2 linked regions of the Homo sapiens genome follow. The gene in region 2 interacts genetically with the main gene of each other region. Each region holds a gene or a part of one and is shown on either strand. Other genes may lie near its edges.

The links.
Region 1: of NOP56 (region 2) and ATG10, changing one suppresses a phenotype caused by changing the other (phenotypic suppression), as found in Homo sapiens cells (one large-scale study listed by BioGRID).

What each region holds. Positions count from the first base shown.
Region 1 is NC_000005.10:82,167,503-82,171,524, reverse strand, and holds part of ATG10 (ubiquitin-like-conjugating enzyme ATG10), read right to left. Parts: intron 1-4,022. UniProt on the Homo sapiens protein: E2-like enzyme involved in autophagy. Acts as an E2-like enzyme that catalyzes the conjugation of ATG12 to ATG5. ATG12 conjugation to ATG5 is required for autophagy. Likely serves as an ATG5-recognition molecule. Not involved in ATG12 conjugation to ATG3.
Region 2 is NC_000020.11:2,651,132-2,654,731, reverse strand, and holds the start of NOP56 (nucleolar protein 56), read right to left. Parts: upstream 2,101-3,600; 5' UTR 2,072-2,100; coding exon 2,069-2,071; intron 1,956-2,068; exon of another isoform or gene 1,891-1,955; coding exon 1,801-1,890; intron 1,454-1,800; coding exon 1,339-1,453; intron 521-1,338; exon of another isoform or gene 446-520; intron 319-445; coding exon 157-318; intron 1-156. UniProt on the Homo sapiens protein: Involved in the early to middle stages of 60S ribosomal subunit biogenesis. Required for the biogenesis of box C/D snoRNAs such U3, U8 and U14 snoRNAs. Part of the small subunit (SSU) processome, first precursor of the small eukaryotic ribosomal subunit.

The sequences.
Region 1 (4,022 bases), on a different chromosome or scaffold from region 2:
CAGTTGACTCTACGATCTACCCTTCAATAAGCCTTTTCCTGCTTATCAAATTATTTGCAACCAGGGGTACACATCTAATATAGCACAAATAGATGGTTTAAAAGTCTTGCTTAATAAATATTTTCAAAATTATCAGCTTAAAATGTTATATATTTGTCTAGCAGTCTTGAATAGAAAAAATAGATGTTAACATGGTTTTTAATTACATGAGAAAGTTTATGTGTGTTACAATCTATTTTTATGAACATATGCCCAATAGCACATAAAGGAGCAATTATGAATCATCTTAAACTGTCCACACACAGTGTTAAGAAACATGGAATAACGCAAGTGATGTTATACCCTTCCATTTAAATTAAGTGAATCACTTAACCTAGTAAAGGACATATAAGACCATTTTGATGAACCTCTGAATCAGAAAATGGTCCCAAGGGAAGCAACATTGGGTCCACAAGATACCTGAGACATCAGCCCTGTGATACCACTATTGATCCAGAAATCTGAGAACCATACTACCAGCTGGATATCTACAGCCTAAGGTCTGCTGGTTCTAAAGCAGAAGACACTCTGTTTTCTTTTTTTTTTCCCTGAGACAGAGTCTCGCTCTGTCACTGCAGTGGCGTGATCTCGGCTCACTGCAAGCTCCGCCTCCAGGGTTCAAGCGATTTTCCACCCCACCCTCCCAAGTAGCTGGGAGTACAGGCGCTTGCTACCATGCCTAGCTATTTTTTTTTGTATTTTAGTAGAGATGGGGTTTCACCATGTTGGCCAGGCTGGTCTCGAACTCTTGACCTCAGGTGATCTGCCAGCCTCGGCCTCCCAAAGTGCTGGGATTACAGGTGTGAGCCACCGCGCCCTGCCAACACTCTATTTTCAATCCTATCCAAAGTATTCTGAGGTTTTGATCCCAAACTCTTGAGATTAATACTCAGTAATTTGTATTCCTGGCTTTCCTCAAACATTATCCCCACATCATGGACCTATTACTACTATATTACTCTATACCAGCACTTTGAATACCCTTACTTCCACCATCCAACCTGGTCTCCTTCTCATGGAATGCAGTCTCTGCCTTCTCAAAACAGCACCTAACATATAGACTCGAATACTGCTTTGATGACTTTGAAGGAGCAGAAAAACAATACATGAGTTACAAGTTAGGCAGTGATTTGTTTCAGCATATTTTAAAAAGAGGCTAATGAGATTTGTGTTGTGCACACAGTAGGCACTCATGTATATTTTAATAGGTATTTCAAACAGGGCTCATTGTGCCAATAGTAAGCAAAGAGATGTTTTTTCCATATGGCACAAACATTCACCTAAGAAAGCTAAAATACAGTCGCTTACAGGTTAATAAAATTAATGTACTTACCTTGTTATTTTCTCTCCCAAGCCTCTGGGTCCAACTAAAATCTCTTGCCTTTTGTATATGTGGCTAAGCAATATTCTGCTTAGAATAAACCTTTTGGCTAACTAGCTATCTCTGTAGTTTTACTTCCCATTTCTTTAGCACCTTTCCTTTAGTACATTTTCAAAACAGGGCTTGATTTTTCAATGAGATTCTATTGCTATCATATGTTCTAACCCAGCATGTGACTTCTATCCTAATTCCCCAAAATATTTCAAACATTTACATGGCTCAACAAATAATTCTCACTAGATTTCCTCTGTTATTTGGACTTTTCAGTTTGAATATATTTGTATTAGTTAGATAACTTTTCATTATTCTTAAAAATAACTTTCACTGTTTGCTCTTCAAATTCATTTCAATCCCTAGAATCTCTTTTTAATTCACCAAAATTCATGTTATGGTTCATTATCATGACCTTGGCTAGATTTACTGTCTACATAAACATATGTGTAACATAAATATAAATACACAAACTTTCTTAAAGATTCTTTACAATTAAGACTCTAAATTAAATTATCTGTCAAATAATTTTCTATTTTCTGCTCACTGTAGTAATTAACTAGAGTCGTTTTTGCCCCAGTCTTAAAATACTTCTCTAATCCACTATTTTTCTTCCTATTCAACAAGCTGCCTTAACCATAACTCTTACCGTACTTGCAATAATACATCTTTCCCCGAAAATATGTTCTTTCCAACTCATTTTCTTCATTTTCTCTAAGAGGTTATTGTTTTTAAATTGTTATAAAATTAATAACAACAACAATGAAAAAGCCAAATCCTTTTTTTTTTTTTTCCAAATTTCACTCTCACCCTTCAATTCCTTTTCTTTCTGTTTTACTCAGGCACAATTTCTAGGACATCCTTCCTCTGGTCTCATTCACTTCTGCTCAAACTCTTTCACTTTTTCTTTATATCTTCCAACCCCTTCCTAACCATTATCTCTTCCATAATTTGACCTCAACATATCTTTTCAACTATTTCTTCCGTAAGTCATCCTAAGTTAGCCCCTACTCCAAACTGGTCCTTCACTGTTCTCCAAATATGGTGGGCTCTCTCCAGCCCTCCAGCCCCCATAGCTTGGCACTCACTCTCCTCCCCTTCTACAGTGCTTTTCCTAACCTCTTCAAGAAACCCAACCTGTGGCTGTCCTCTACAAGTTGTTGGACAGAGCTATGGATATTCTACTTTTATTCTTCGGCTTCCTCCAACCCCCATCTTTCCTGTTTTGCTGTCATTCTCCTCTATGCACTCCAAAGATGTCCTCTTATTGCAAACCACAGACAATCCTTTTCCTGCTTGATGATTTATATGCTGCTTTAATTCCAAACTTTCCATTATTCTTTCTTTATCATGGCGTTTATCTTAGTTTGATTCATGCTGCCTTTGAGAAGGAACTATTCTTTGATTATTTCTTTTGCCCTGTTTCTCCATGAGCATCCTTCAGGCCTACAACAAGTGGACAAATCTTTCACATGAAATATTTAGGCTACATTTTTAATTCTATACCCTTTTTTCCTGGGCCAATAATAGAATGGTCTCCATAAAGGACAGCCATTCCTTTGCTGAATGGAGGAAAAGATTCCTCCTCTATTCAAATGCAGCCCTGCTGACTAATTAAAGAAATATGTCAAAACAGCTCCCAAGAAGAACCCATATGTCATCCAAAGAATTAAATGTTTTGAAAATAAGAAGAACCACTTGGTCCATTTTTCAATAGAGACTGAGAACAAATGAAAAGAAAGAGATGAATCAGAATTCAAGATGAAATAAATATAGAAATCTCTAGCTAAATGTAAGGAGAAAATATTTAAGCCTAGGCCTCTGGTAAGGCAAAAGGCCATTATGTATGTGCCTAAGGGTTTTACCACCTTTGTAACATTTGCCACTAGCTTTTGATCAAAGCTGAGCCCTCAAAAGGGAAAATGAGACATAAAAAGGTCAGGGAATAAGAATGGTAGGGAATGGATAGAAGGCTTTGGCATGATACAAAAAATTCTTTAATATGGTATGCTTCAAAAACAGTGGGAAAAAAAGAAAAAAAAAACAGCATGCACTTGAAGATGTCAATGCTTTGTGGGAGTGGATTTACTAAACTATAAGGCACTATTCCAATGTAGGCTATTTATTATTACTCAACAGACGTGCAATTATGTCTCACCCTCTCCTGAGTGACAAAGGGTATTAACTGTGTCCCACCACCTCTCCCAAACCTACAATGACAAAAGTAGTTAGAGAAAAACAGAACATTGGGATGGAAGGGCTTATTTCTTCTCTTAAATCCACGTTGCCCACTTGGTAACTGAGCTCCTGTACACCAAAGTAGTAGAAATGAGAGGCAGAAGCAGAATGCTGTCTCAACTTGGCTGTCTGCCTTCAAGAATTAAATAAAAATACGTGTTTATAGAAGTGGAACAGCTGCTTCAGCTAGTTTGGATACCCACTTTTGAGTCCTCAGGATGTTCTATTTTTCTAAGTCCACTACTCCTATAGTCTCTGAAAAGTATCAGACTAAAGAGTAAAGATACATAGATGGTTTGGGTCTTAGGTCTCCTGGAGACAACAGAATTACTTCCTCTTTCAAAACCTGGCATAGCAGTTGAAGTAGGCACCA
Region 2 (3,600 bases):
CGGTGAGCAACAAGGGGCTCTGAGCTAGCTCCCGCACCCACGGGCACCAGCCCAGCCTGAAGGCCTTCCCAGAAATCACAACAAGCAACCAAGTTTCCAGAACCTCCTCCCCCAAAATGTCCAGGATAACAGGAATATAACAGATGATGGTCTCACCTCGCAGGATCTCAGCTATGACTCCTCCAGTCTGGCAGTTGTACCCTAACTCCTCCTGTATTGCGGCACCAATCTTGGGATCCCCAACTCCCAAGAGTACTTTCTTCTTTTTGGACGGCAGGTGGGTCTCCAAGAGCAGGCGGAGGTCCTCATGAACAACCCCTCAGGGGAAAGAACACAGTTCCCACTAACAGGCTGAAGGACGATCAACTCTAACATCCCTCAGCTGACTACCCTGGTCCCACCGAGCACGCTGGGATGGCATACCTAGATCCCTCCCCATCAGGCATTGCTCAGAGACATGGAGACATCAGTGATTGCACTCAGGGGATTGACAGATTTGATTCGCAAGTCATCACTGCAAAGCCTGGCCCAGCCATGGGAACAACTGCATTCAGGTCTGATAGCACAAGTGGGCAATAAATAATAGCTTGTAACACACCCTCGAGTATTTCGTAGAATTTGCCTTCTGGAACCAAACCTTTTTTTCTCAGCCTGTGTTTACCCAACTGCCCTTTCCAATCGAACAGAAAGCAGAGAACCAGACACTTGATTGTGTTTAGGCAAAACCTCAGGCACAAGTAGGTGTTAAGCCGACCCCCTTTAAGAAACCCCCCTTTGTCGGCCGGGCACCGTCGCTCGCGCCTGCAACCTCAGCACCTTGGGAGGTCGAGGCGGGCGGATCACGAGGTCAGGAGATGGAGACTAGCCTGGCCAACATGGTGAAACCCCGTCTCTACCAAAAATACAAAATTAGCCGGGTGTGGTGGCTGGCACAGGCCTGTAATCCCAGTTACTCGGGAGGCTGAGGCAGGAGAATCGCCTGAACCAGGGAGGCAGAGGTTGCAGTGAGCCCAGATCTTGCCACTGCACTCCAGCCTGGGGGACAGACTCCATCTCAAAAAAAATAAAAATAAAAAATAGTTTGTCACTACAGTGCCCACAAGGAAACGTTAACACACATTCCACATCGTCTGCTTAAACAGTTTGGTCTAGCACAGTTCCCAGACCTTGAGCTCTGTGAAGACAATTATTTCAAATTACACATTGTATGGCTCAAATACTGCCTCACGCCTATCAGACTCAGAGCCAGCCAAGGACGGCAAATACTATCACAAGCTGCCCGAGAGGATACCGAAAGGAACCACATCTCTCTGTGACACTTGGCGGTGGCCGACTTACCTTCAGACACGGCGTTGGCATTTTCCAAGGCAACCTGGGATGAGGCAAAGGGACAAAAGGCCACCAGACGAACGATGCTGTGGAATTTGCCCAGGTTGAGCACAGACTCCTCCACCTGGGGGGAGAAAGAGGCTAAGTGGTTTCCTTCCCTCCCTCCTGCCTCTGCGGCGCAGTCAAGCAGCGGTTCTCAGCCTTGGAAGCTCTTAAAATATGCTGATACCTGGGCCCCACATCCCAGCTTCTGCTTTAATCGTTCGGGGGCGGCGTCCGGGAGGCTTATTTCTAATTGCTAGAGCGATTCTACCCATGGGTCAAGGTAAAGACCCCCGGATCTAGAGCTTTCCAGGCCCGTCCCCCCGCCCCGAACCGCTCGGCCGGCCACGTGGGAGCGCGCTGTGCATGCTGGGACCCGCGCGATGAGGGTCTGCGGGGCCGCCAAAGGAGCCCACGGATCTCACCCACCTGCGGCTGCAGCAGACTGATCTCCTCCACTTCCTTCAGCGCCAGCAGCGCGTAGCCGACCGCGTGCTCAAACAGCACGTGCAACAGCACCTGGAACGGGAGCCGGGGCGCGAGCGTCAACGCAACCTCAGCGTCTGCCGGAACCCGTTCCCAGGGCAGGCGCAGGCGCAGGCGCAGGCCCAGGCCCAGGCCCAGGCCCTGTCTGCGGCCCGAACGCAGGCCGAAACCCCCACCGTCGCGTCGCCCGCGCCCCGCAACCACTCCTCACCATGGCGCCAGCTCCCGGGTTCGGCTCGCAATGCGGCTAGCGCGCTCCGGCGCGCGGAACCAGGCTCCAGAGGCCACGCCCCCGCCCCCCCGACCAATCGGAGGCCGGGGACGACACCATCTCCGGCCTTTGGAGGGGCCGCCCAGGGTGGTATCGCCCGGAGCGCGGGCTGGGTGGTGCCGAGCGCGGGCGAGCGGGCCTTTTCCGGCCTCTGCAGCTGCGCGGGCGGGCGTGGTTGCCGGGGACGCGCGGCCCCCGGTCGGGCACTGCAGGCGGCGAAACGACTTGGGAAGGCCCTTTCGGGGTAATAGTCCGGTTCCTGATGTTCTTGTCATATGAGTTACGGGCAGCAGAGCTGGGTGAAGTCGGGGCGGGAGGTCCGCGTGGGGCGCGGCGTCCATCCCAGACAGAGACCGCTGCCTAGCCGGCTTCCCGCTTCGTCCGTGGCCTCGGGCCCCAGACCCTGCGCCCCACGTCCCCGGGACCCAGGCGTTCCCGTCCCCTACTCGGGGACGAGCCTCCCCGGCGCCGGGTGGGCGGTGCATCCTTTCCTCCCACCCGTAACGGGAGCGGTGCCTGGCGCGCTCTGGCGCAGACCCTGCTGGGAATGTAGCTCGCGCAGTTTTCTTCGTACTATTAATTTATTTCTTTTTTTTGTTTTTGGTTTTTTTTTTTTAAATGACTGTAGCAGGCAGTAACGTGCGAAAGAAAGACGCTCCAGCGTCTTCCTAGGCCAGTTTCTTGTTGCTGTGCTGCACGGGACCCAGCTCCTTTTGCTGGGCCACGTGTTGCTCCTCCGCTTGGGCGGCCCTGAATTCTGGGCGCTGGTGATCGCTGAGTGAATCGCAGCTGCTTCCCTGTCCTTGAGGGCGTCTTTTGGGCACTCAGGCGACTCTTTAGAAATGAGTTTTGCTTTAATAATTAATATTAACGTTATAAATCCAAAACCTAGTTATACTTAAGTAGCGTATCCCCTGGTATGTTTTAAAGAGTCATTCGAAGGGGATTTTTAAAAATAATGTATAGCTATAAACTGCATTTATACATTTAATTGTTATTTTGTTAAGCGATTGAGTTACTTGACAAAATCCAAGTACATAGTTCACTCACAAATCTAATATGTCAAACCTAAATGTGGTTGGTAAATCTTACTCTCATAATTTCAATATGGTTTACAGATGTGGTTGAATTCTGTTACACATGTCTACTTACGAGTCAGAATCGTTATTCCATTTAATATTTTAAAATGGAATTGCCAAGTTAATCCATACATTAGCATGTTAAATTATTTTAACCGTCGTGAATACATCAAAATAGACGATTCCAAAATGTAATGGAAAATACTAATGCTAATACTTCAATTTACTTCATTATTTCTGCCCTTAATCCTGAATCTTCCTGGAGTTACAGGTGCTTATCCACTAAACCAGGGGTTTTCAAGCAAGAAGTCAGAATGCATTAATGGACAGCATTTAAAAAAATAGGATTGGGTGGGCTATAATCCAGCACTTTAGGAGGCCGAGGCAGGCGGA